2 separate regions of the Homo sapiens genome follow, and region 2 is linked to region 1. The links come from fine-mapping of genetic effects on gene expression. Tissue or cell type: lung. Region 1 holds a variant in brackets; the other region holds the start of a gene. All regions are shown on one strand. Distances are from middle to middle.

What was found. PIP is the estimated chance that this variant, and not a neighbour inherited with it, causes the effect. A credible set is the group of variants that fine-mapping cannot tell apart.
Region 2: GPR34 starts here. The variant in region 1 is the best candidate, but not a certain one, in a credible set for the expression of GPR34 in lung (GTEx, PIP 0.87).

Annotation. Positions count from the first base shown.
Region 1 is chrX:41,501,760-41,504,682 of GRCh38, reverse strand. No RefSeq gene overlaps it. Among named protein-coding and RNA genes, the nearest start is that of CASK-AS1, 15 kb to the left of the region's middle. The variant C/G (reference allele first, on the strand shown) is at 1,535.
Region 2 is chrX:41,687,328-41,690,250 of GRCh38, reverse strand. GPR34 (G protein-coupled receptor 34) reads right to left here and starts at 1,278. Exons shown (of 3, transcript NM_001097579.2): 1 at 1,167-1,278; 2 at 416-508. The region is part of intron 5 of CASK (calcium/calmodulin dependent serine protein kinase); the gene reads left to right.

The DNA.
Region 1 (2,923 bases):
AACAACCTCTGAAATTTGGAATTTCCTACATTATAAGTAAATCTCAAAGTAGAAGCCACAGGCTCTCTTTCTCAGCTTCCCTTGCAGCTGACAACCAGGCATGTGTGTGATCTAGGTTCTGCCCCTGTAAGGCACCTGGATTCAGAAGAAAGCAACATGAGGAGTAAGTGTCCAATGAGGAGCTTTATAATCAGGATGGCAGTGGTGGCATCTGGCTGTCAGGGGCAGAGGTGACAGAGGTTCTGATTCCCATGCCCAGCAGCAGTGGCCATGGGGCTTCGCCGGAGGAACCCCTCAAGACAGTTTGGATTTTCTTTCTTTTTTTTTTTCTTCACTATTGAATGTCTGGTCCATGCCAGAATTCCTTTTTTTTTTTTCTTAAAGATGGAGTCTCACTATATTGCCCAGGTTGGTCTCAAACTCCTGGGCTCAACCTATTCTCCTACCTCAGCTTCCTGAGTAGCTGGGACTACAGGTGCAAGCCACCATGCCCAGCTCACCCCAGGATTCTTTGATCTACCCTAATAGTTTTTTAAATTCTAAATTTAAAAAATTAAACTTGAGATACTTTGAAACAAAAAAGTTCCAAATATAGGTGGGGCACAGTGGCTCACATCTGTAATCCCAGTACTTTGTGAGGCCGAGGCAGGAGGATTGTTTGAGGCTGAGAGTTCAAGACCAGCCTGGACAACACAGTAAGACCCTGTCTCCACAAAAATAAATGAATTTATTTTCTTTTTTTGAGATGGAGTTTCGCTCTTGTTGCCCAGGCTGGAGTGCAATGACGCTATCTTGGCTCATTGCAACCTCTGCCTCCCAGGTTCAAGCCATTCTCCTGCCTCAGCCTCCTGAGTAGCTGAGATTACAGGTGCACGCCACCATGCCTGGCTAATTTTTGTATTTTTAGTAGAGACGAGGTTTCACCATGTTGCTCAGGCTGGTATCAAACTCTTGAGCTCAGGTGATCCACCTGCCTCAGCCTCCCAAAGTGCTGGGATTACAGGCATAAGCCACTGTGCCCGGCCTGAATATTTTTTTAAAAAAAGAAAAGAGTTGCAAATATAGTACAAAGAATTTCCATATACTCAGACTCCCTAAATGCTAATATTTTATATAACAGTATAGGGCCAGGCATGGTGGTGCACACCTGTAATCCCAGCACTTTGGGAGGCCGGGGTCGGTGGATCAGGAGGTCAAGAGATCGAGACCATCCTGGCCAACATGGTGAAATGCCGTCTCTACTAAAAATACAAAAATTAGCTGGGCGTGGTGGTGCGCACCTGTAATCCCAGCTACTCAGGAGGCTGAGGCAGGAAAATCTCTTGAACCCGGGAGGTGGAGGTTGCAGTGACCCGAGATCATGCCATTGCACTCCAGCCTGGGCGACAGAATAAGACTCCGTCAAAAAAAACACACACACACACACAGTAAAGGCAGGGCACGGTGGCTCATGCCTGTAATCCCAGCACTTTGGGAGGCTGAGGTGGGTGGATCACCTGAGGTCAGGAGTTGGAGACCAGCCCAGCCAACATGG[C/G]GAAACCACATCTCTACTAAAAATTCAAAAATTGCCAGGCAAGGTGGCTCACGCCTGTAATCCCAGCACTTTGGGAGGCCGAGGCAGGCAGATCACGAGGTCAGGAGATTGAAAGCATCCTGCCTAACAAGGTGAAACCCCGTCTCTACTAAAAATACAAAAAATTAGCCGGGTGTGGTTGCGGGCGCGGTTGCGGGCGCCTGTAGTCCCAGCTACTCCGGAGGCTGAGGGAGGAGACTGGCGTGAACCCGGGAAGCGGAGCTTGCAGTGGGCCGAGATCGCACCACTGCACTCCAGCCTGGGCGACAGAGTGAGACTCCGTCTCAGAAAAAAATAAAATAAAATAAAATAAAAAATTAGCTGGGTTTGGTGGTGGGCACCTGTAGTTCCCAGCTACTCAGGAGGCTGAGGTACAAGAATTGCTTGAACCCAGGAGGCAGAGGTTGCAGCGAGCCAAGATCACGCCACTGCACTCCAGACTGGGTGACAGAGTGAGACTCCGTCTCAAAACAAAACAAAAATATATATATATATATATATATATAAATTAAAATTAAAAAATGTAAAATGTAAAACTATAACAACAGTACAAAGATGAAAATTAAGAAACTAACACTAATACATTACTGTAATCTAATTTAGAGACTTTATTCAAATTTTACCAGTTGCCTCACTAATGTCCTCCTTTTTCTGGTCCAGGATCACACATCATCCTAGTCATCATCATGTCTATTTCAATCTGGGCTAGTTCTTAAGTCTTCCTTTGTCTTTCATGACCTTGACACTTTTGAAGAGTACCAGTTATTTGTTGAACATTCCTCAATTCTGGTGTCTCTGATGTTTCCTCATGATTAAATTCAGGTATGCATTTCTGTAAGAATACCACAGAAGTGATAGTGTGTCCTTCTTAGTGCATTATATCAGGAGGCACAAGTTGTCAATTTGTCTGATTTCTGGTGATGTGAACATTGATCACTTTATTAAAGTGGTGCCTACCAGGTTTCTCCACTATTAAGTTACTGATTTTCCCCTTTGTAATTAAAAGCTACCTTGTGTGGACCTAATAGCTTTTAATACATTCCTTCTGTACTTAAACTAGCTAGAATGGTTCTTGATTCTAGAACGCTGACTTATTTTCTATTCCTAGTTTGTCAAGAATGTTTATCAGGAATGTGTTTTGAACATTATCAAATAATGTCTTTTTTTTTTTTTTTTTTTTTGAGATGGAGTCTAGCTCTGTCACCCAGGCTGGAGTGCAGTGGCGTGATCTTGGCTCACTGCAAGCTCCGCCTCAGCCTCCCGAGTAGCTGGGACTACAAGCACCCACCACCACACCCAGCTCATTTTTTTTGTTTTTTGTTTTTGTTTTTTTAGTAGAGACGGGGTTTC
Region 2 (2,923 bases), 190 kb before region 1:
TAAGGCTATTTACTGATATTTTTTAAACTACCTGTTTGATATGTTAAGAATTGCTTGTGAAGACAAGAAACAAACCACTGTGTTTACATAGGGGATTAATTTCCCAGTGGGCATTACTTGTGACCCATGTGCTATATTGAAGTGGTCACAATAGTTTTGTAATAGTAGATAGTGTTTTTTAAATGTTGTTACTTGGCAAATCCTATTCACAAGTTCAAAAACCTAGTATTAGTGCATTGTACCCCCGCACCACCACCTACTCCTGCAGTTTTTTTTCAACTGGCTCATGTAGGAGTACTGGACCCAGAGGGCAGGACCCAACAGATTCCACTGTGACTCCAGATGAGCAGAAGCTTTTAAAATGCAGTTTGGGTATGTTTGTGAAAATATCACATTGCTATGTTGAAATACATACCTATTTGGTAATAGTCGCAACCTTTCACCGTTTTTAGTTTGACTTGATAATGACTGAATCTATTCAGGGCATGCTTCAAAATTGCATTAACTGCTGTATAAAAAATGAAAATTGAAAACATATTACTTTGGAAATAATACTATTAATAGTGTGTTAGGTTTTGTTACAAATTTAACTGTGTCCCTAGAAACACATTTTAAAAAATTATTATTTGAACTAAAGCATATTTTGCTTTCTCTCTTATCTAATATTCACCTTATTTACTTCTGAAACACCAAACTTAAATGTTATATGGTCTGGTAATACTATAAAATAGTAATAATATAATAAAGAAAAGACAGTAATTTAAAATAGGGAGACAGCATAACTTAAAGTCAATAAGTTATAATTTATAATACATTAGAAATAAAATGTATTGCATATGAAAATAACTTTTAATTCATGCAAGTAGATCTGCAAAATCTTGATGGCAGTATCCAAATGCAGTATCAACAATGTGACTATATTGACAGTAGGAGCTTAAATACCTTGAATGTCTTAAAGTACTTAAAGTAACTAAAAAGACAGTCTCATTTGAAATCAAGGCAGAGGTGTCATTCAAGCAATTTACTCAGTAGTTCTAAAAGCGAATAACTGCTGACATTAGAGTAGCCTTATCACCATGAATCACGTTTCACTTTGAATGTTCAGATAATCAAATTTTAGCTGAAATAAAGGTTCATTTATGTAGCCGAAATCAAGAAATACTCACAGTTCAGGTTCGCCTGAAGTAAAAGGAGCAGAACCCCAAGCTTCCCTAGACACTGAGACTCGTCTTGGTTGTGTCAGCTGGGCTCTTCCATCCGGTCGTGGTGCAATTGGTTGGGGTTCTCTTCTTTTTTATGTTCATATGTGGTGGTAGGGTTTTTTTTTTCCCCCTCTTTTTTTTTTTCTTTTTTCGGTATGACAACTCTCAGATTCCTTTTGAAAATATTAAAAAGCCCTACTACCATGGAACAACTTTAAGCTCAACCAACACTGAACTTTAGGAAATTATTTATATCTTCTTTATGAATACCTTCCAACTTGACAATTGTGGAATGTTTTCCTCCCCCCGCTCAAAATTTAAAAGTTTTATAAATTCTAAGCAGAAATATGTATTTTCTGTGTTTTGTAAGAAATGATACATAATATGCTATATGGACTTTCAAAGCACAAGCACTGAATTTCTGTTTCTTAAGTTTTCATCTGTACATTATTTTAGCATATTTTCATGTATTCCTTTAAGACCTTTGCTAAAACAAACTTGTATTATTAGGACTAGATGAGATTTCTGATGGTGTTCTCCCCTTTTGATCACTATGATAAACTCTCCCGAGCAAATTAAAACATCACCTGTATTTTAAGCGAAATAATGATGGGATTCTGCAGTCTTGGTTTTGATCCTAGTCCAAAATTTAACCACTATCTGTCCATCTATGTAACTGCTGGCCCTGCAGTTTAGTGTTATTTCCCTTTTTTTGTTGTCATTTGAAATGAAGAAGTTAGTTTTTATTCTCCCCATAATTGTTATCCTGCAGCTTGTTTGCACTAAATATTTGACTCATTGGGCTGTATCTAACATTCTAATTATTTCTGGGTACACTCTTCTGAACATTATATTCTCCAGAGCTTTTTGTTTGTTATAAATATGATTTATGGGACAGGATATTTTTAAATTAATAGAATAAAAATGTTTTGTAGCTCTTACTTCCCCTTAGAACCTCTGAGAAGGAAGGTGGTTGCTGTATTAGTCCTGCAATATTGTTGTATTGGCAGGATTTTATTTTATTGTGGTACAATATGTAACATTAAATTTACCATCTTAACTTTTTTTTTTTTTTTTTTTTTTGAGACGGAGTTTCGCTCTTGTTGCCCAGGCGACAAGAGATTGTACAATGGCACAATCTCGGCTCACTGCAGCCTCCACCTCCCAGGTTCAAGCGATTCTCCTGCCTCAGCCTCCCAAGTAGCTGGGATTACAGACATGCACCACCATGCCCGGCTAATTTTGTATTTTTAATAGAGACAGGGTTTTGCCATGTTGGCCAGGCTAGTTTCAAACTCCTGACCTCAGGTGGTCCACCCACCTCAGCCTCCCAAAGTGCTGGGATTACAGGTGTGAGCCATTGCGCCCAGCCCCATCTTAACCATTTTTAAGTATACAATTCAATAGTGTTAAGTATATTCACATTGTTGTGCAACAGTTTCTAGAAGTTTTTCATCGTGCAAAACTAAAACTCTTCACCACTAAACGATTTCTCTCCTCTCCCCCTGCCCTTGACAATCATGATTCTTTATGTTTCATTGATTTGGACTACTTTGGACACTTCATATGAGTGGAATCACACAGTATTTGTCCTTTTGTGACATGTTTATTTCACTTGGTGTCATATCCTCGAGGTTCATCTGCGTTGCAGCATGTTACAGGATTTCCTTCTTTTATCAAACTGCATTATATTCCACTGTATATGCACCACATTTTCCCTA